Linked DNA regions of Homo sapiens: all the other regions are reported to be linked to region 1. The links are microRNA targets in miRTarBase. Many come from high-throughput screens and were not tested one by one. Region 1 holds a microRNA gene; each other region holds the end of a gene's coding sequence. Distances are from middle to middle.
The links. The annotated mature microRNA hsa-miR-6727-3p reads UCCUGCCACCUCCUCCGCAG and lies in region 1 at 4,965-4,984, opposite strand. An mRNA with a match to its seed (bases 2 to 7 or 8) in the 3' UTR can be bound and repressed. Matches are read on the target gene's strand: a 7mer-m8 pairs with bases 2 to 8, a 7mer-A1 pairs with bases 2 to 7 and ends in A, and an 8mer does both.

Region 2: miRTarBase lists CRTC2 as a target of hsa-miR-6727-3p. Seed matches in the 3' UTR shown: 7mer-m8 at 6,242-6,248.
Region 3: miRTarBase lists SEC22A as a target of hsa-miR-6727-3p. Seed matches in the 3' UTR shown: 7mer-A1 at 1,319-1,325 and 7mer-A1 at 2,968-2,974.

The regions. Positions count from the first base shown.
Region 1 is chr1:1,307,538-1,314,723 of GRCh38, forward strand. It overlaps MIR6727 (microRNA 6727), which reads right to left and starts at 5,029; the gene lies at 4,965-5,029. It overlaps ACAP3 (ArfGAP with coiled-coil, ankyrin repeat and PH domains 3), which reads right to left and starts at 393. Exons shown (of 24, transcript NM_030649.3): 1 at 232-393. The coding sequence starts at 278. It overlaps PUSL1 (pseudouridine synthase like 1), which reads left to right and starts at 1,060. Exons shown (of 8, transcript NM_153339.3): 1 at 1,060-1,183; 2 at 1,378-1,435; 3 at 1,549-1,736; 4 at 1,917-2,066; 5 at 2,144-2,314; 6 at 3,097-3,151; 7 at 3,372-3,534; 8 at 3,793-4,140. The coding sequence starts at 1,107. The coding sequence ends at 3,842. It overlaps INTS11 (integrator complex subunit 11), which reads right to left. Exons shown (of 17, transcript NM_017871.6): 8 at 6,764-6,828; 9 at 6,195-6,384; 10 at 5,972-6,055; 11 at 5,498-5,587; 12 at 5,250-5,412; 13 at 5,056-5,163; 14 at 4,903-4,964; 15 at 4,689-4,831; 16 at 4,481-4,610; 17 at 4,063-4,387. The coding sequence ends at 4,322. RefSeq lists silencers at 212-381, 422-1,101, 1,322-1,391, 1,422-1,561, 1,572-1,701 and 1 more.
Region 2 is chr1:153,941,794-153,948,979 of GRCh38, forward strand. It overlaps CRTC2 (CREB regulated transcription coactivator 2), which reads right to left. Exons shown (of 14, transcript NM_181715.3): 13 at 6,665-6,851; 14 at 5,882-6,536. The coding sequence ends at 6,316. It overlaps DENND4B (DENN domain containing 4B), which reads right to left and starts at 4,925. Exons shown (of 28, transcript NM_014856.3): 1 at 4,508-4,925; 2 at 2,265-2,604; 3 at 1,085-1,337; 4 at 763-832; 5 at 394-563; 6 at 76-320. The coding sequence starts at 2,581. RefSeq lists enhancers at 3,177-3,276, 3,597-3,646, 4,115-4,615, 5,427-5,496 and a silencer at 4,137-5,036.
Region 3 is chr3:123,270,744-123,277,929 of GRCh38, forward strand. It overlaps SEC22A (SEC22 homolog A, vesicle trafficking protein), which reads left to right. Exons shown (of 7, transcript NM_012430.5): 7 at 779-3,393. The coding sequence ends at 979. Among named protein-coding and RNA genes, the nearest start is that of SEC22A, 72 kb to the left of the region's middle.

The DNA.
Region 1 (7,186 bases):
CCCACGCGCACGCCCTCCACCCGGGGCGGCCGCACAGGGCAGGAGCGTCTTTTGTTCCAACCCCCGGGGCATGGCGGGGCGGGGCCGCCGCTTTGTCCGAGGCCGGTCCTCCAGCCCCTCCCCGGCGGCCGCGGCCCGGCCCGGCGCTGACCTCCCCACCCCGCCGCCGGGCACAAAGGCGACAGCGACGCCCCCGGCCTGCGCCCACCCCGGCGGCCCCGGGCGGCGCACCTGAAGCGCGGGGAGTCCTTGACGCACTCCTCGAACTCCACGGTCATGGCTGCGGCGGCCGCGGCGCTCACTGGCACGAGGACCGCGGCGCCGAGCGGCAGCCGCGCCGGCCCGGACCGCTCGTCCCGCCCGCGCCGCCTCGGCGCCCGCCCGCCCCGGAATGAGGCCGCCGCGCCGCGCCCCGCCCCGCCTGTCACCGCCGGGGAGCGTCGCCAAAGTCAGCCGCCCGCGCGCACCGCCCGCTGTCACTGCCGGGGAGCGTCGCCAAGGTCCGCCGCCCGCGCGCGCCGCCCGCTGTCACCGCCGGGGAGCGTCGCCAAACGCCTCTCGCAGCGTCCAGGGACCACCCCGGTCCGGAAGTGAGGCGGGGCCTGCCACGGCCGTCTCCGGGGACAGTCGGTGGAAATGTGGGGCGCGGGGAGGGCGCGGGGAGGGCGCGGGCCCGCCCGCTCCAACCATCCCGGCCGTTGCGCAACTCAGGGCGTTTGCAAAAACCACGTCTGGGAGGACTTGGCCGCAACGCGGCGAACGGGCGCGCTCGGGGAGTGTGGGCGGCGGCGAATGAATGAGCGAGTGAACGAATGCACGCCCGCGAGAGCGCGGGGTGACCGCGTGGTTGGTGCGCGCCTCCCGGGGCGCCGCGATAGAGGTAGAGCGCCTGCGCTCGGCGGCGGGCCGGCACTTTGCAGCCGCTCCCTAAGCCCGGCCCCGCCTCCGCTCCCCGACTCTGGCCGCCGTGGCGCGGTGCCACCGCGCAGGCGCAAGAGCGGCCGGGGCCGGGGGGGAGGGGGGGGGGGCGTGACCAGGCCGCGTCCGCGCGCGCGCAGGATTCCTGCGCTGGAGGCCGCCTCTGACGCCACCGGCTGGGCTCCGCCATGAGTTCGGCGCCGGCCTCAGGCTCCGTGCGCGCGCGCTATCTTGTGTACTTCCAGTACGTGGGCACCGACTTTAAGTAGGTTTCCCAGGCGCAGCGGCGGGCGCCACGTGGGCCCGGGCGGAGGCGGGAAGGAGGGCGCGGGCGGGCAGGCGGATGTCTCTGGACGCGGGTTCCAAACGTTCGGGGAAGGAAGCGGCCCTGGCCTCAGACGGCGGCGGAGACCCCAGGGCAGGGCGCCCCCGGTAACCTCCGCCCGCTTCTGCCCGCAGCGGGGTCGCGGCCGTCAGGGGCACTCAGCGCGCCGTCGGGGTCCAGAACTACCTGGAGGTGCGCTCAGCCGGTCACGGGACGCCCGGTGAGGGGTAAGGGGGAGGCTCCCGCCCGCGCGTCCCCGGGGTCCGGCCTCGCTCACCCGCCCGCCCCGCGGCTCGGTCCTGCAGGAGGCCGCCGAGCGGCTGAATTCCGTGGAGCCGGTCAGGTTCACCATCTCCAGCCGCACGGACGCCGGGGTCCACGCCCTGAGCAACGCGGCGCACCTGGACGTCCAGCGCCGCTCAGGCCGGCCGCCCTTCCCGCCCGAGGTCCTGGCCGAGGCCCTCAACACACACCTGCGGCACCCGGCCATCAGGTGAGCCCGCGACCTAAGCAGCCCTGGGGCTGTGCCTTCCCGACTCCATCTGTCGCGGGCGGAGGCTGGAGATCTGGACAGACTTCCTTGTCTGGTCGGAGCTCGAGGGGGAAGGAGAGCCAATGTGACACCGCGGGCGGGCGGGGTCGTTCCTCCGGTGAGCTTTACCTGCCGCCATAGGGTCCTGCGGGCCTTCCGAGTGCCCAGCGACTTCCACGCTCGTCACGCAGCCACGTCCCGGACCTACCTGTACCGCCTGGCCACTGGCTGTCACCGGCGTGATGAGCTGCCGGTGTTTGAACGCAACCTATGCTGGACTCTCCCGGCAGAGTGAGTGTGGCCCTGACAGCGGGGAGGGGGCGGGCAGGCCGGCCCCACCCTCCTGACGGTCACCCTGGTCCCTGAAGCTGCCTGGATATGGTCGCCATGCAGGAAGCCGCCCAGCACCTCCTCGGCACACACGACTTCAGCGCCTTCCAGTCCGCTGGCAGCCCGGTGCCGAGCCCCGTGCGAACGCTGCGCCGGGTCTCCGTTTCCCCAGGCCAAGCCAGCCCCTTGGTCACCCCCGAGGAGAGCAGGTGAGGAAGGGCCCCTGGGCTGTGGCCCTGCCCTCAAGTCACGTGCTGATTTTAGCTCCAGCACCTCCCCCAGTTTTAAGGCAAGGTGAGGCGGGAGGCAGGCAGCCGGGAGTCCTCAGGACCTGGACAGCTGGAGGGGATTCGCCCGGACGCCCCCCAGCCTCCAGCTGTGCCCTCCCCCCAGGCTGGGGAGCGGAGAACAGGGAAGGCTGCTTGTCTCTGAAAAACCCCTGCCATGCCTGATGGAAGAATGTTGGCAGCTACTGGAAAGGTCTCACTGGTGCCAGTGGTTCTGGTGGGGTGGTTTCTGCTGCCCCCAGCACTGTCCCGAGGGCCACCCACCAGGTGGCAGCTTCTGACCAGAACCTCCCCTATTGGGGTGAGCCCTGAAGGGGGGAAGAACTTCTGCCAGCCCCAGACTTCTGTGGCAGAGCAGCAGGTACAGGACTGGGGGTCTCTGGCACCCGCACCAGCCACGTTCCCAGACCCTGCACCAGGACCCTAGGTGAGGGCCCAGGGCAAGCCCCTCTGGGATGGCCAGGCTACCTGCCCAGCCTCCAGGGTCCTGCTGCCTCCTTGCCCAAGCATTGTTTCTCTGGTTTTAAGCCCCTCCAATGGGCCTCACTGGGGGCAGGAGATCAGCCAGGGCCCCTGGTGGCCAAGCTAGTGGGAACCAGGCTCGTCTTTAGGCCCACCCTGTCACTCTCCCGTCCAAGGCCACATAGTAGGCTGAGGATGGCAAACACTGCCCCACAGACACCTACAGGTACGTATTTTTCCAGGAAGCTGCGGTTCTGGAACCTGGAGTTTGAGAGCCAGTCTTTCCTGTATAGACAGGTAGGCTCTGTTCTGGGGCCGTCCCCAGGGGGTGGGGCTGAGGGTGGGCAGGCCCCTGTGCAGTCTTGGCTCTGGGTCGTGGGCGGCTCTGGGTCACAGGTACGGAGGATGACGGCTGTGCTGGTGGGTCACGGGCGGCTCTGGGTCACAGGTACGGAGGATGACGGCTGTGCTGGTGGGTCACGGGCGGCTCTGGGTCACAGGTGGCTCTGGGTCACAGGTACGGAGGATGACGGCTGTGCTGGTGGCCGTGGGGCTGGGGGCTTTGGCACCTGCCCAGGTGAAGACGATTCTGGAGAGCCAAGATCCCCTGGGCAAGCACCAGACACGTGTAGCCCCAGCCCACGGCTTATTCCTCAAGTCAGTGCTGTACGGGAACCTCGGTAAGAAAAACAGGCACGAGAAGCTCCTGTCATGTGCCCAGTGACTACTGTGGCCGAGGCATGGGGTGGGGGGCCAGGGGCCACTGACGGCAGCAACTGGGGGTGAAGCAGCCCCCCGCCCAGGGCTGCAGTCCCTCAGGCCAGCCCGTAGCCCGTCCTGGGCTGGCCCACTCCCTGGTCATGGGAGTGGTCTCAGCGGTGGGGAGGGTGCTGGGCCGGTCTTGCCCCAGGCTGACGCAGGGTCTGGTCCGTCCACAGGTGCTGCCTCCTGCACCCTGCAGGGGCCACAGTTCGGGAGCCACGGATGACCCTGGACACTCAAGCCAAAGTTAGGCCACACCAGGCCCAACCCTGTGCTGGTCAAGCCAGGGCAGTCACAGCTGCTTGGGGCCCACAGCACTGCTGCCTGGTCTCCACAGTAGCCTCCCTGCCCGGGTCCCAGCACCCTGGATGCCCGTCTCTGTCCCAGGCGGGATGGGGCACAGTGCAGGACACAGCCATGTACACCAAGAAGAGAGTACCAAGTAGTCTTTTGTTCAGCTTTTACTGGAAACTGCTGTCTAGGACCACCTGCCCTAACCAGGAATAAAGGCAAGACAGCCTGGAGACCAGTTTGTTTCTTCAGCTGCAAACAGCTGCCTGGGCAGGCAGGTGACACAAGGCCTCTGTCCCCAGGGATGGGACCTGCAGGGTCTGTTCACCCAGGGCACCCACAGTCCTGAAGTGCAGGCCCAGGGTCTGTCCAGCTGGGAGAGGGCAGAGGTGGCGGCTGGGTGAGTTGCCGGCCTCAGCTGGGGGCCTGGGGGAGGCCCTTCTTCAGCAGAGATGTGAGGAAGCTCCCCAGCTCCTCGTCCTAGGGCAGAGGCAAAAGCATTGTGGGTGGTGCAGGACAGGGAGGAATGTTGATACCTGTGTTGACCGCGGTGGGGTGGGGGTCACCCCTTACCTGGTAGGTCCAGGAGACCAGCAGCACCTTGGTGCCTGGGTCCTCAGAAGGGGCGGCGGCCTGGAGGAGGACGGACTCCACAGTCACAGAGCCGTCTGGGAGGTGCTGCACACAGTGGTCCTTCAGGACGCTGTGGGGAGGCTCGGTGAGACCCTGCCTGGCCTCCAGGGCCCAAGGGAGTGGGGGGGGGGCGGGGCCGGGCGCCCACCTCTTGAGGTGGCTGTAGACGCGCAATGCCGTCTCCTGCTCCTTGCGTGTGTCATGCAGGTGCACGCGGCAGGTGAAGCGCAGCTGGTGCTCAGCCAGACCCAGCTCTTTGAGGGCTTGCTCTGAGGACACCAGCCGGAAGTTCTGTGGGGCAGGGACAGGTCAGTGAGCGCAGCAGCGGCCCTCCCCCCTCCAGAGACCGTCCTGGCACTCACGCTGTCCTTCATGATCAGGGTGCCGTGCAGGAGCCGAGGCTTCTTGGCCTCAGGGAGCAGCCCTGCGGAGGAGGTGGCAGGAGCCATCAATGTGAGGGCCGCTCCCAGCCGCCTGCCCCGAGCACCCTGCCCTGCCCTGCCCAGCCCGCATACCCTGCGCCATCTCCCGCTTCAGCAGCCCCAGCGAGATGCCTACGGGGATGCTGGGGCTTGTGGGCAGCGTCACCGTCTCGCCATTGGCCGGCATGTAGCAGTTGACCCCTGGACCCCGGGGGAAGAGAGAGCCTCAGCCCAGGCTGCCCGTGCTGACCCGAGGTGGGCCCCACGCCGCCCGCCCGGCTGCCTACGGAGCTCCTGCTCGATCTTCTGCTTCAGGAACTCCATCTTCTTGGCCTCGCCATGCACCAGCAGCACGCTCTCCGGCTCTGCCTGGCCCACCAGCTGCATGATGCCCTTGGCGTCCGCGTGTGCGCTGAATGACATGTACTCCACCTGCATCTTGACCTCCAGCTACAGAGGCCACGGGGCGTGGACAGTGGTTACCACCAGGAGGTGCCCCTCGGCCCTGCCAGCCCAGTGCGGGGTCGAGACTCACCACCTGCCGCCCCTCCATCTCGAGCTTCCGCTGCCCGCTGAGGATCTTGTGGCCGACGGTGCCCTGCACGCAGTAGCCGGGCATGATGACCTGGGGGCAGGCACAGAGCTCACAGCCAGGGAACTCCAGCCTTGGCACCTCAAGGCCTTGCCCGGGATGCCCCCGCCTGAACCCCTGGAAGCTGTTTCCACCTGCCAGCGGCGCCCGACCAAGCCTAGCTGCAGACTCCAAAGGGCTCAGGTTTTGGCACAAGACTGTCCAGGGCTGGGCTGGGGCTGTTCTGCCCGAGGTGGACAAGCTGTGTCACAGAGACTGAGCAGCTCCAGGCGGACATCGCCCCCGTTCCCCAGCAGCAGCAGCCACGTCCCTTGGCCAGCACGAGGCCAAGCCAGTGAGAGCTCAGAGACAGCATGGGTGGAAGGACAACCCGTCGGCCTCCAGCTTCCAGATTCCCACACCTCACCATGCCCTCACCATGTTCTTTTCGTTTCCGGCCCATTTCCGGAAGATCTGCAGGGACTGCCCAGCGTGCAGCATTCCTGGCGTGGCAAACACAACCTACAGGACACACAGGGCCAGGTGGGGGGTCAGGGCAGCAGATGCCCCCACCCCCACTGCAGGCCCAAGCCCAGACACCTGCGGAAGACAGGAGACCGACGGGTGTGGATGTGCTGGCCGGCCCTGCCGCGGGCCTCACCATCGGTCCTGGGTTGTCAGCAAAAGCCCGGTCGAAGGCCTTGATGTGCTTGAACTCAAACATGTTCCTCTGCACGAAAGTCTTGCGGATCTTCTGGTTGGTCCAGGGGATGAACAGCTTGTAGTAGTGGTTGGCCTTCTCGGTCAGCCCCGTGGAGAAGTAGATGGGCACCTTCAGGTTCATGCGCTCCCTGGGGACCACCGGCCCAGTCAGCACAGTGGCCACAGGGGAGAATGCTGCAGGGCAGGACTCGGCCGGGTCACCCCCAACACCCGTGTCTGCACAGCCCACGCACGGGCCAGGTTGAGTCCAGTCGCGACCACTTGTCCCATTAAGCCCTGCAGCAGCCGGGCTCAGCGGAGAACCAGGAACCCCTACAAGAGCCGCACACGGTGGCGCTGACGGGATGTCACAGGCTTCCTGGGGTCACACAGCACACGAGCGGCCCCCCAGGACAGCAGCAAGCAGGGCCAAGATGCCACCGCTACGCTGGACAGGGCTGCCCACCAACTGGACTGTGTTCAGGCCGGGCCAGGGGCTCCTTAAAGAGCCGTCCTGGCGGCACCTACCAGAAGGTCTCCAGGAGGATGCAGAGCTCCTGGGCGCGGCCCAGCGCGAACACAGGTATCAGCACCTGAGGGGGACACAAGGCAGGAGCCCTGGGCACATGGCCCCTCGACACAGCAGGCAGCGTCCAGTGAGGGCACGGCCAGGTGCCCAAGAGCTGCGGCCTCATAGGGACCTTAGCCTCTCATCTGCTCCCAGTCCCGTCCCAGCCGCTCTCCAGAGACAGAAGGGAGCCGTATGAGAGACAGGAGGGAGCCGCATGAGAGACAGAAGGGAGCTGCATGAGAGACAGAAGGAGCCTGGCCAGGGCTTCGTCCGCACCTGAGGTAGGAGGGAAAAGGGGCTCCCTAGGAAAGGGTCTCTGAGTTTTCCTCCTCAATGTTGAGCAAATCTTCTTCCCTCCCTGCCTGAAAATGCAGTACCCC
Region 2 (7,186 bases), 150 Mb from region 1:
CTGAATCTCTCCCATCTCTCCTGGCCCCCTTATCCCTTCCTAACCCCTTCCCAATGGCAGAGGAGCCATGCTCACGCTTCCAAGGGTAGGCGGTGGGGGCCTGAGACGGAGTAGCGGTAAAGGAAGGTGAGGAAGGCGCGGAAGGCAGGGAAGGCAGGCCAGCGGGACAGCACAGCGATGGCACGCCGGCTGCGCACAGCTCTGCCCCCCAGTGCCCGACCCCGCTCCACGGCGCTCAGCAGGCCCAGTGCCCGTGCCTGTCGCTCTGATAGCCTGGCCCTTGGGAACGCCTCGTAGAACTGCAGGGCGGCACCATACACCTGGCAGGGGGCAGAAGGGTAGTCAGGCAGGCCCTGCATAGCCTGGACCCCTTGCCACACTCCACACACCCACCTTATCACCAGCTGCACCCGTGAGCACAAAGGTGGAGAAGACGGGCACGGGGTACTTGGTCTGGGCAGGCCAGCACTCGATAGTGGCCCCCATGGGCAGGCAGAAGACGGGCACTGACTCGGGCAGCGGGAACGCCTCATTGTCCTCCTCCGGGTAGCGGCCCAGCAGCTCTGCACCCCCAGCATAGTTGGGGGTACCCAAAAGGAGCAGGGTCCATCAGACTCCAAGGGAAATGAACCAAGGGATCCCAGAGAAGGCCCGAGTAGCAAAGAGAAAGTAAACTCTGGGGACACTTAAGGTGCCTGCCAAGAGGCACCAGGGCAAAGGGATGTAGGGTCACAGGATTGGAGGGATAAAGGGGCCACTCACCTGCCTCGTACACCAGCGTGTTGGCCTTCGCCAGGCCCACCTTATAGCACAGGTACACTGCTGGGCCCCACTACCCCAGAAATGGCAAGAGACAAGCAGATACATAGCTAACAAAGGTTTCTGGGGTCCACTTTCTCTCTACCACCCCTAAATGTTCTTTTGTCTTTAAAGCTCCCATTAATCCCAGTGCCCCAAGACCAGAGTTACCCCTCTGGACTCACCCCTGTGGTCAGAGCCTTGGTCCTGGGATGCCCTTTGTTCCCAGTGTCCACACCCACTCTTACACCAAGAGGACCAGGTGTCAGCTCTTGGCCCCACTCACCATGCCAGGGTTGAGGTTGCGGGGCAGCCGGCAGTAAGTATGAGGAGTGCCCTCGCCCTTACTGGGCAGCACCAGGCAGAGGTCAGTGATGCCCAGGGCATGCAGCCCTGCCCCCTCTGCTGCCCGCCGGTAAGTGAGGTAGGTGCGGGGGTGCCCGGGGCCTGGAGGGGCCAGGTTTGCTGAGTGGCTGTAGGGTGTCGTGTCAAGCACTTGGAAGCCAGGCTTGGGACGTTCCTTCCCCTCATACAACACCCTTGGCACAGAGAGCAAAGATAGATGTTGAGAGGTCAGGGTAGAGGACAAAGACCCAATCCTGCCAGATCTGCCTATCTAATCCCCTGAACTTGCCTTGTACCCACAGCCTTGTCAAACTCTAACACTAGGGCCCACCTCTTCTTGCTGAACTCTGCCCTCCAGAATCCTGTGCCCTTTCTTTGGCCTTTGGCCTTATTTCATGGTCAGCAACAATCCTGCATGCCTTCTATGGCTCTCATACTCATTAATAAACACTAAGGGTCAGCTGGGCACGGTGGCTCATGCCTATAATCCCAGCACTTTGGGAGGCCAAGGCAGGTGGATCACCTGAGGTCAGGGGTTCAGGACCAGCCTGGCCAACATGGTCAAACCCCATCTCTACTAAAAATTCAAAAATTAGCTGGACGTGGTGGCACATGCCTATAGTCTCAGCTACTCAGGAAGCTGAGGCAGGAGAATTGCCTGAACCCAGGAGGCGAAGGTTGCAGTGAGCCAAGATCACACCACTGCACTCCAGCCTGAGTGACAGAGAGAGACTCTGTCTATAAAAAAAAAAAAAAAAAAAAAAATAGTTATACAAGCTACCACTGACTGACTCTGTTAAGTCTGTCACATGGGTTATCTCATTTAATCTCGACCATCCTATGAGGATGAATTATTTTCCCCATTTGACAGATGAGGAAAACAGGCCCAGAGGAGCTCAAAAACCTGCCTAAGCTCTCAGAGCTAGCAAGGAGCAGCACTAGCACATGAAATCGCATCTGTAAGGACTAAGTACATACAACTTCAGTCCTTCCTTCCTGGCCCCTGGCCCACCAGGCTCCCATCCCCATTGCCCTTCCCTTGTTCCATAGTCCTACCTCTCCCTGTCTCACTGGAGTCCCTCCCAGCCTCCCCTGGTGCCAGCATGGGTAGGGGCACACACCCCAGCTCAACGAGGGGGGGCTTGTCACGGCCCCTGCGGTAGCAGATGACGGGTTGAGTTCCACCCAGAAGTCCAGCACTGAGTTCCAAGGGGTGGCCCCCAGCAGAAGCCTGGATGCATGTGTAGCCCTGGGGCACTTCCTCGCCCAGTGCCCTAGCGATGACTGCCACATCTGTGATGGGCTCAGCTGGCCGGGGAGGGCGCAGGGGCCCACTGGGTTCAGGAACCCACGTTTCCTCAGGGATGGGTGCTCCGTTCCCTGCAAGCCCAGCTACCACGAAGTAATCCACCAGCCGGGGGGGCCGCTCCTCCGCCATGGCCCCCCCCTCACTCACTGCATCTGGAATGGTCAAGTGGGAGAGAGATGAAGCAAGGAAGGCTGGGGATGCCATGGCAACCAGGGTACCCTCTTGCTCCCCTCCTCTTCCTAGTCCTTCCAAAGAAAGGCAGGATAAGGGGTCGGCCAATCCTGAACTCTTCCCCCTGTGACATCACTGCCCACCACAGCTTCTTAAAGAGACCAGATCCCTCCCACTTAATGGTCCTGGCACTCCCCTCAAAGAACCTAAACTCCACCACACACAGCTAACCTGAGCTATGACATTCACATTGTCCATGTGTCCCTTTTAAAGGCTCACCAGTTATAACATCACAGAGATCACAATCTTTTTTGTAATAGCCTTCCATGACATCATTCATGCTGGCCATGACATCATACCAACCTTACAGTCTTTTCAAGGGTTTCTGACCTTCCTACTCTAGTTATGACACCATAAGAACCTTGTGATCCTGCCAATGTTCTTAAAGAGCCCACTCCTAGGTTTTTAAGAGGACCCCATGGGTTTCTGAGAAAGCCCACAAAACCCAAGCTTTAAGAGTCTTTTCAACGAACCCAAGTGTCCTTTCTCCTAGCTTAACTCCACCAATCTGGCCCAAAATCCAGTGTTCTCACACCTCCAGGATCCTTAGGTAGCTCGTTAGATCCAAAGCAGTTGTGAGAGACAAGTCCCGGCCATCCCACACCCTCCACCATGGAGCCCAGAGACAGAAACAGGCCCACAACAGCCTAGTTCTCACCTGCCTCCATGGCCCAACCCCGGGGAGTAGGAGCCCCAAGGGTCCTGAGGCGCCCCAGGGTGCAGAAGCTGGGAAAAAGCCTGGTGGGTAGCTCGCAGCAGGGGCCCAGAAGCGTGGGGGGTGCTTCAGAGGGGAAGGGAGGTTACTTCCTGAAACAGTGGAGGGGAAGCTGCAACTCAGAGGAAGTCAGCCTATGGGTGTGTGTGGTGGCGGTGGCGGTGGTGGGGTTACCATTGAAGGTGCCAGCACAGCATTACGCCAAGTTGGAATCTCAGACTATAGGATCCTGAGCAAGGCAGAGGAGGCTCAGAATGGTTCCAGGATGTGCAGTCCTGCTAACCTCCTGCTGTTCCCCCAGAGAACAGGGAATAAGGAATCTCATAGAGCCAGGCTGGCTTTCTTCATCACCTGGCCTCTGGACACACACACACACACACACACGCACACACACACGCACACACGTACACACACCAACCCCAGCTAAATTTAGACTCCACTTCTGGGAGGTAAAGCCAGGAGTCAGCGTCAGCCTCTTGATTTAATTCTGGGGCACAGACCTGTCCCTCATCCACTGAGGGCGAATGGGAGCCCTATGCCCAAGGCAGCAGGCAGAGGCCATTAGGTGGGACCTTCTGAGGGGCAAGTGGGTGGCACCCATCCGCAGGACCTGCGCACCGGGGCCTCCCCTCACCAAGCCAGGGAAGAGTCCTGCAGAAAGCAGCCCTTTCTCCCTAGGGAAGACAACGGGCACAGGGCCCACTCCGGGTCCCCACGCCCGCGTGCCGGGTGACGGGAAGTTCGGGTTGGGGCAGAGGGCGCGCCGAGGGGGAGGAGGCTGAGGAAGGAGCAGGAGGGCAGAGAAGCAGGCGCGCCGGCGGCCGAGGACGTGACGGCAGCAGCGCCGGCCGCCGCGTGACCCAAGCGGGAGGGAGGGCGGCTCCGACTCCGGCACCCACGGGAGCAGAAGGGGGTGCAGGAGGCCGGGCACGGCGAGCTAATTGCGGGAGGTGCCCTCCCCTCCACTTTCACTTCCCCAGGAGAGAGGAACCGGAACCAGATGTGCAGTGAGGGACAGCAGCTGGGGGCCATCCCCCACCCCGCCTGCCGCCCGCGCTCCCTCCTGCCCGTCCCCGCCTGCCGCCCAGCCCGGTCCAGCCCCTACCTGCCTGTCCCGCGCTTCCCGGCCGGCCGGCCCGCTGGCGGGTGGCTCGGAGGGCGAGCTGGCGGGCCGGCGGGCGGCGGGGCTACCCGGCCCCAGACATGGCGCACCCGACTTGGGCGCCGCTCCCGCCCGGGCAGTGAGTGAAGGAAGAAGAGGCGGCCGAGGACCGCAGAGCGCGGGGCGCAGTGGAAGGAGATCCGGGCGGTCCCCGCGTCCCCGCCGCGCTGCGCCACGCGGGGACTGTGCTGCCGCGCTGCTCGCTCGGCCGGCTCGGTCCTCCCAGCTCCCGCGGCGCCGGGGACCCAGCGTTCCTCCGCGCGCCCCGCTTTCTCTACTCCCCCAACCCCCGCTCCGGGCCGCGGGCGCCGCCGCTACCCCCACCCCTCCTCCTCGGCCGGCGGCCGTGACCCTGGCAAGCGTCTGCCCAAAGCCCAGCCGCCTGCAGCCCGACCCCTGGCGGCTGGGAGGGCCCCCTGCACCCAGGTAGCTTCCCACCATCCAGCCCGTGCCTCAGGACACTGACCCCAGGCGACCCAGAGGGCCGCGGCGCGCTCCCTTCCCGCCTGGGTCCTGCAGTCAGATGTGGCAAGCATGATGTGGGCGCAGGTGAAGTCCCGAAGGTCTAGTCTACGGGGACCCAGGTGGCTCCCCCTACTTCCAGGTTTAGGGCACAGGGCATTCCCTTTGGACCAGAACCAGAAGCTCTCAGTTCTCTTTTTTGAAAATGACAAGAGCTTTGGAAAGAGGAAGAGAGGCCAGGACTGCAGGGTGTGGAATAGAGCAGTGGAGGTGGGGGTAAGGTAACTGCGGGGCTCTACTTTTCTCACTATGCGGGTTGGGGGAGTGAGGGGTGCAGAGGCCCACACGGCTGGTCCAAGGGCTGGCAACCCAATCCAGAAAGAGAAAACCTTCAGAACATGCATGGCACTGAAGGATCTGTTTAATTAAAACTAAAATGAATGAGTGGTGAAGAGTGGAGAGGGTGAAGTGAATGCATGCATAGTGAGGGAGTGAGGATGAAGGCTTGCTTCCCTGAGACCTAGGAGCACTTCAGACCTGTGGGCTCAGCCAGCAATCACCTCCTTACCCGACTCACTGCCAGACCTAGGGTTGAGGAAGAGGAATAACTTGTCTGATCAGTCAAAGCCCCCATCTGATGCTGCAGCAGGGCCCTGGACAGACAGGAGGGCACATGAAGTGATTTCCTGCTGCCGTGGAAGCCTACATCCAGCTGGGTACAAATTCCGAGGCTGTGGGGCCCTTCCACAAAGCACAGTGGTGCTAAGAAGATGCAAAAAGCCTAATAGATAAAAAGACCCATGGCCCTATAACTCCCTAGATCCCCAGCCATGCCCCAAATAACTAACCACACCAAGGGTTTGATATGATTTTTTTATTAACATATAATAATATATTTAATAAAAAATAGTATCCACTCTGGCTCTCTCCTCCACTGCAAGGGGAAGAGTGGTGAGGAGGGGCTGGCACTGCCCACCCCTAGGCATCCGGAAAAGCCCTGCTTCCAGGGCTCCCCTCTACCCCTGCTTTCCAACAGGCTCTGACCTCCAGACAGACGGTTCAAAGTTACAAGTGCTTTAGGCCCTCCCTTGAGTTCCCCCAGGCCCATCCCTTGCGCAGAATTCAGGGGCCACCTGGACAAACCCCTTGCTTTTTCTCATTCTTGGCATCCTTCATTCATGCTAGAAAGAGGATCTGGGGACAGAGAGTAGAGTCTCTACCTGCCAGGGGGAAGGGAGGAAAGGAATGGTGGTGGGGGATGGGGCCAAGAAGAGGGATGGTGATGAGGTGCCCTCATTGGAGCCGGTCACTGCGGAATGACTCCTCCACAGCAGGATCAGGCAGCAGGGCACAGGGGTCACTCAGCATGTTTAGCCCTTCCAGGCCCAGTGGCTCCATGCGCAGCTCATCTTCTAGCCCAAGCCCTAGCTCCAATCCAGCTGCTGACACCTCAAAGCCAGGCACTCCGGCCAGGGCTGCTGCAATCTCCTTAGAGAAACCTGGAGAGGAGTCCCCTGTGGGTAGAAGAGACAGGTGAGGACCCCATGTCCTGTAAACTTTTCCAAGACCCCTCAATCTCCTACTCATTAGTGAATGTGTCACTTCCTCCTTCCATTTCCCATCACCACCCACCCCCATTCACCTGTGAGGATGATGTTAGGCCCTGAGCCATGGCGGGAACAGTGGGTCAAGTTCTGGTGGTTGAAGGTGTGGGGATCCTGGGGGCCACCCATTGGCCCCTCACCCCCTAAAAATCCAGGCCCTTCAGAAAAGCCAGGGGGATCCAGCACCAGGCTGGCTGATGGGCTCTCCATGCTGAACTGCTCCAGCTATAGACATACAGACAAATCTTTAGGAAGTAGGATTTAGAACTGGTGTCCTGCCTAGCCCTGCTAACATATCCCCTTTGCCCAGCAACCTTCATCCACCCCAGGAACAGAGGCAATGACAGAGGGAGGTGGCAGCAAGCAGAGCGACAGAAGCGAGCACGGGGCCCGAAGTAAGTATGGGCACCGTACCTGCTGGGCCAGAGCATGTGCATGCCAGGAAGAGAACGGGTCAAGGCAGAAGTCATCAAAGAGCAAGCTGAGCAGAAATAGAGGGGCAGGAGTAGGGTCAAACGCAGGAAGAGAGGAGCCCCAAGCTGGCAGTGCTATGTTACCTC
Region 3 (7,186 bases), not on the chromosome of region 1:
ATGGGCAGGAGCGGTGAGAGGGGGAGTACTTTCTTGACCGTTTCATCTAAAATAGCACCCACTATCATTCTTACTCCCTATCCCTTTTTCCTGCTTTCTCTTTTTCAAGACATAACTGTTTGATATTATATATTTAAAATACATTTATAATTCTTCCCCATTAAAATTTAATATTTATATGAACAAGGGCTTTGTTTTACTTACAACTGAAGAACAATGCCTGACTTGTAGCAGGCCCTGAGTAAATATTTGTTGAATGAATTCTCCCTCAAATGTTCAGTCAGATGCTGTACCTAGCATAGTTCCTTGTACTCAGTGGGCGACTAGTAAAATGTTGTGGATTTTGTTAATACTCAGACTCAGGTTATATTAAGAGTCCATTTTGTAGAATAGCTTGTATGTGCTTTTTTGTATTTTCCTGGGTGAGAATGGAACACCCGCAGACCCTGGGAATGCTTCTTAGTTGCCTGTCACCATGGGGAATTTGCTCAGCCTGTTTGCAAGGAAGTCATTCCATTGTACTTCCATTTAAAATATGATACAAAATGCTTTTCTTCTGAAAAATGAAAAACTTAAGAGGAAAATCTATTTCCCTTTCAAACTGTGAAACTTTCATAGCTGAATGTCTTAGATATATGCTACATTATCTTATCCCTAGATAAAAAATAACCTTATCCATTCTTATATTTTACTCTCTGACCTGTTACAATTTTATATTAGAAACATCTGTTTCTTTTCCTGTAACCCTAATCATCTTTCATTTTTATATTTTGAACAGTGTTATTTACTTGTCTACTACACCGGCTGGCGGAATGTCAAATCTTTTTTGACTTTTGGCTTAATCTGTCTATGCAACATGTATCTCTATGAACTGCGCAACCTCTGGCAGCTTTTCTTTCATGTGACTGTGGGAGCATTTGTTACACTACAGATCTGGCTAAGGCAAGCCCAGGGCAAGGCTCCCGATTATGATGTCTGACACCATCCTTCAGATCTATTGCCTTGGCTTCAGGGGGATAAGGAGGGAACATATCATAACTGCACTGTGATGAAGAAGCTGTTCCCCACAGAGGAGAAGCTCTGCTTTCTTTCTCTCCAACTTTCCTTTTTTAAAATCAGCATGATGTGCCTGTGAGCATGGAAGAGTCCTCTCAGAAGAATGTTGGCCATGAGACTATCATTCAGAGGAGGAGGGGATTTCTCTCTTCAAGGCCGTAACAGTGGAAGAACAGTCATATGCCATTGGAAGTCTTGGCCAGCAGTCCTGAATCCTTCCTGAAGAGTTCAGAAAATAGATGTGGTATTGCTCTGAGGACCAGGCAGGAGGAACTCTACAACCTGAGTTTGCCTTTGTGAGGCATTAGTATAGACCAAATAAAAAGCTGCAGAAATTGGAAAGTTTATGTTTTAAATAAATGACTGTGATAAATATCAGATTATTTGCACACTTATGGTACTACGAGTTTATAAAGTCCAAGATGGTGTGAAATTGGTTCTTTTTACTTTTATATTTTTGCTTGAATCTTAACTCTGGAAATCACCTGATGTAGAAGAAGACTGTGATGAGCTCGTCTGTGGAACATCACAAGTATCGAAAATACAGTAATGGATGTTTCCTTTCTAATCCACATTTATTGTTTCTTTTGAAATCACGTCTAAAAAATATGACTCACACTATAGCCGTTGTTTCCCAAACTTCAGTCTCTTTAGTACTACTTGTATTATTTTCTTAATATTTATCTTTTAAATTTTAAAGTTTTTTTAAAAAAATGAATCCTGCTCCAAGTGGAAAACCAGTATCAGTTTGCCATAAATAAAAGGTAACCACAAAATAAGTAAGATGAACACAAAAAATGTTGTTCAGTTCTAGCTAGAAACTAATGCCTAGAAAGGCTCCGAATCTTAGGCTCTTTCTTTGTGGCAGTGAGGGAGATGTTACCAGCACCAGCATGAGGCACTGTCTCTGGAATAGTCAGAGGATAAAAGGAAACTGTAAAGGGAATGACATTCTCACTGTGATTCAGCATTATTCTATGTTGTGCATCACTTAAAGACATGTTGTGTGCCACCAGTGGCATGGGTCCGCACTATGGAAATGCTTGACTGTAGTAAGAATCAGAAGGTGGCTTTCCTAGCAACTCATTATTTTATGGCTTTGAGGAATTAAGCCCCTAGTATCTGAGAGAACTTACTTGTTTTTTGATAACGTTTTAAAGATTGTTTAAGCAGTTATGAATTAATAATATAGGAAGCACAGTTGGATTCCACTAGCAAAATCTATAACTCTCATGGTTTTGGAAGTCATCTTCATGGGTGATTTTCCTTTGTTTTTTAAAGAAAATATTTCAAACAAGGAATTCATAGGATACTGAAATTTGATATCATCCAGAAAAACAGATCCCATTACATTGTAATTGTTGTTACTAGGCATATTTATTAAGTAGAGAAATAGAGGGTAAAAAGTTAGTGAACTGTCTTGTTTGCGTGAACCAGTATTTGTGGATATGTCTAGAACTGTAAAATCTTGCTTAACTAGAACCTTAGTCTGCACCCTCCTTTTAGGAGAATGAGGTAAAAGGAAGACAATAAGCTTATGATATCAGGGATTCATGTAAAACAGGAAATAGTAGTTGGCTCCAGTCTTCTCCTCTAACAAAAGTATGCATATTCTGAGAGATACCCCAAGGCATCACAAGATCCTGAATCATCAAAACACCATTGAATTGTGTTGGGCATTTTGTAGCCAGGAAAGTGAAGTGGTTCAATTTAGAAAGGGTTTCAGGCCAGGCACGGTGACTCAGGCCTGTAATCCCAGCACTTTGGGAGGCCGAGACAGGCAGATCACTTGAGACCAGTAGTTTGAGAATCAGCCTGGCCAACGTGGTGAAACCTCATCTCTACTAAAAATACAAAATTTAGCTGGGTGTGGTTGCGCGTGCCTTTAGTCCCAGCTACTCGGGAGGCTGAGGCAGGAGAATCGCTTGAACCCAGGAGGTGGAAGTTGGCAGTGAGCCAAGATCACGCCACTGTACTCCAGCCTGGCCAACAGAGCGAGACTCTGTCTCAAAAAAGAAAGGTTTTCTAAACTAATGGTTAAAACAGAATTTTCTTGTAAATAGGGAAGTTGGAGCATTCTGGTTGAGATTTTGCTCTGTATTGACACAGCTCGCACCAGTTTGGTTCAGGAGCTACCTCCTTGTCATTGAATTGACGAGTTACAATGTTTGGTATTCGGATACATTCAGCAAGAACACTTGAAAACTCCTCACCAACTATTTTTAAAGGCTTACTTTGTTTTTGTTTTTATTTTTTCACTGGCTATTTTGGATAAGAGGATGTTTACATCTTAATGTAAAAAAATGAAAACAGGTATAAATGTTTTATGTATAGAAATGTTTTCTTTCATTATTTGGTGCCTGTATCTCCGTGTTTATATCATTTCCCCACCTGTATCATTGCTGCCAAAAAAAGAACTTTGAATTTAGAAAAAGAAATTGGTGTAAAGTCCTGGCCGGGCACGGTGGCTCATGCCTGTAATCCCAGCACTTTGGGAGCTCAAGGTGGGTGGATCACGAGGTCAGGAGTTTGAGACCAGCCTGGTCAACATAGTGAAACCCCGTCTCTACTAAAAATACCAAAAAAAATAAGCTGGGCGTGGTGGCAGGCGCCTATAGTACCAGCTGCTTGGGAGGCTGAGGCAGGAGAATCGCTTGAATCCAGGAGGCGGAGGTTGCAGTGAGCCGAGATCACACCACTGCACTCCAGCCTGGGTGACGGAGTGAGACTCTGTCTCAAAAAAAAAAAAAAGTCCTTAGGCTCTTTAGAAAGAATCACTTTAGGCCTCCATGGTGTATGATCTTCTGTTTCTATTGCACTTCTAAGAGCAAGCCTGAGTTTACCTCCTCATAGTTTTGTAGCATAGGAGCAGTAGTAGCTGCCCTCACTCTAAGGGGGAGGACACAGAGGTGATCAGATGGTAATGACTTAGCCAGTTCACATAGCTAAGCACACACAACCCTGATCTAGTGCAGGGCTCTTCGCACTAGCATGGAACTAGTGAAGGTGACCAGTGTTATATTCAGGGAATATGACTGTTCTTGGTAAAGCCAAGGAGTTGAGGGGTTCTGAAATTGGTGAGTCCAGGCCTGCTGCTGGAGTATTTTATCCTAATAGGTGTATTTTATTTTAATTTAGATAATTCCTAAATACTGCTTTTTGATTAAGGTGTACCATGAGAGCGAAGATACCCTCTTTTATATACTAAGATAATTGCAATATTTGCTTGCTTTTTTCAGTCTGTATTTGAAATATATTTACATTAATACCTGGCCTCTTTCCCAAAAGCACTTGAAGCAGCATACCAAGAAAAGACATATACAGCCATGTTAATGAAATATGAACAGAAAGGGAAGAAAAACAAATGAAAATTGAAGGGAGGGTTTACATACATTATTGTATGTAAAATTTGACTCTGGAACTTTCTGGAAATCAAGGCTAAGGGTAGGGAAAGAAGTTATGCACTGCCCTATCAGTAGGTGAAAAGCATACCAGTTCCTTAGGGGAGAGCCTTTCCTGATGCCTTCTAGTAAAGGTGTTCTCACTGGGGGTCCTGTGAAGTGCTAAAATGAACAGAATTCTCGATTTTCACACATTTACATGTTATGATTGTGCCTTGGATCCTTACCTTGTACCAGCTTTCAAAGGCTTCCATTTCAGGATTTGGGGGGATTTGTGTAGGTGTGGTTAATAAAGGATTTTGTTTTCATAGGTAAGAATCCTAAGCTGAAAACAAGTATTAAGCTTGAAAATCATTTGAGACAAATGCCTTAAGACATGGAGAACCTTTACCCAATTCTGTATTACAGAATTATAAGATTGAAAGTGAGTGTGCTATCCTTGGATTGGCACATTTATATTGCAGTAAATGTCTCCACAGTGGAATCTAGTGTGGAGAGATGGACAGCTCCATTTCTGTTAGGCCACGTGTGGAACCCCATTAGACTCCTACTTCATCAGGGCTCCACAGAGACCAGAAGTTTGTCATAAAGGACCTAACCTCCGTGGCTTCTGAGGTCAGCTGCTCCCCTAAAAGGCAATTGCTTGGCCTTCATTTCAAAAGGTTTACTAAGTGACCTAAGGTCATACTCTGAGCTGTTGGGTTTCCAAGGAACTCAACAAAGGTTGTGTGTGTGTGTACACCTTCCTTGTTACTATTTTAACAGACTTTTGGCTCACTGTAAGAGTTAGAACTTCTGTGGAGTGTGTGGTAAAAGAACACATACGTTCAAGAGCAGCCACCACTCAAAACCTCATTGAACACTTAGCCTTAACCACAAGTTATAGGTCACTCTTTAGGGCCACATTCTTTGTCTGTGTTCAATGCTTTATAGTATTTTTCTGCCTTATCTCTAAGGAACCAAAGTCTTTCTCCCTAAAAATGCTGTGGTAAAGTAAGGTCTGATTTTAGGGTTAAATTGGCTTTAGTAATAACCTCGCTAAAAGTTAACAAAAGAAACCCAGCTCCAAGGGTTGTGACTGAGTTTGTGTAAAAGGGCTGAGTGAGCCGAGAATGTCACTCTGAGCATTACCGGTAAGGTTGGAGGTGTGTGATCATTAATGTTCTGGGGCTGCTGTTGAATGCTGGCAGATTGCGGCCTCCTGTTTAAGCATCGAGTTTTTCAAAGAGAAAAACTGGCTGCCACTCTTGTCTCTTTCTTGAGTGGCTGAGTTTTCTAGGTTATTTAGTAGATGAAATCAAAAGAAACGTGGAAACACTGTGTGGTTGGAAGCCACGTGGCGCATATGCTCCTGCTTGTTAACAGTGAGTGGTGTTGATGCGTGGGCATTCAGGTTTCTTCTGCGTTGGCAATGCTGATGTGTAATCAGTCGTCTCAGCACAATTGGGGGTTTTAGGAAACTCAGAGATCAGCCTTAGTTCTCAGAGTTTTTGAAATCAATATCCTAGCCTTATGAATTGTTCCTTGTGTTTCCTTGGCAACAAACAGTATTTTCAGCCCAAACCCACCCACGGTTTACATTCACCCCTTTCTCCTGCATCTCACAGCACAGCCATACAAGCATCACCCAACAGAAAGCACATTCAGGCACCATCTGACAACGGGAAGCAGGACTCAGGCATTCCACTCCCCATTTGTTCCTGGTGTCCCCTCCCCAGCTCTGCCTTGCTTGCTTACCTTCTTTGTGCCAGCACTTTTCTTTGAGGTTGGGTTGCAAAGGACCTTGCCTAAAGATGAACAAAGTATTTCATTCTTGCACTTTGAATCTCTCCAGTGCCTAGGACTAATGAGGAGAATGCTTGTTAGCTCATTTTGTGGGCCAGTGCTGGGTTCTCCTTAGTTCATCCTTATGGCAGCATGAGGTGGAGCGGGCACGATCTCATTTGCATTTGAGGAAACCAAGACTCAGGCCAGGAACTTGTCTTCGTATGGTATGACACTTGGTGGTGGATGTGAAGTTCAAATTTGGAGTTGGGTTTAAGTCGCTTGAAAGTTGGTGCTCATTTTTCTGTGCCACAGTGCATCTCAGAAAGACACTTCTTAGGGAATGTGTGTGTGACTGACGACAGCTGGGTTCTTACTGTTTTAGCAGCAGTGTGAACAGATGAAGCAGACAGGAAGGGGGAAATGGCAATGTATACTGTGTGACAGGCACTATGCTAAGCATCTCATCTTTACCGAAAGCATTTATGAAGGTTTTCTCTTTTAAAAATGAGCCACCTGGGCCATGAAGAAGTTAAGTGACTTGACCACAGTCACAACCTAACCCATGTGGTAGCATCAGGATTTCAGTCCAGATCTGACTCAGAACTCATGCTCTTAACCACCATGTGATTTTAAGCTGGATAACATGGAAATACGTTTAAATATATAAGGAATATATGTAAAGGTAATATACATTACTTTTAAATAAGACATCAGGTCAGTGCTAACTCCTACAGTATAGATGTCCCAGGTTGAATAAAATAGTTTCCTAAAATCTCTACATTTATAACAATGACATAGGACAGACAGGTGGCTGCAAGATGTATGGTGAAGCTTATGTATACCTTAGCTATTAGGGCAAGAAGTATACATTTTAGTACTTGTACTAAAACTAACATATAAATTAATCTTGATGTGGAAAATAAAAGCATTATTGGTGATTTGGGTGTTACAAACATTTGCTT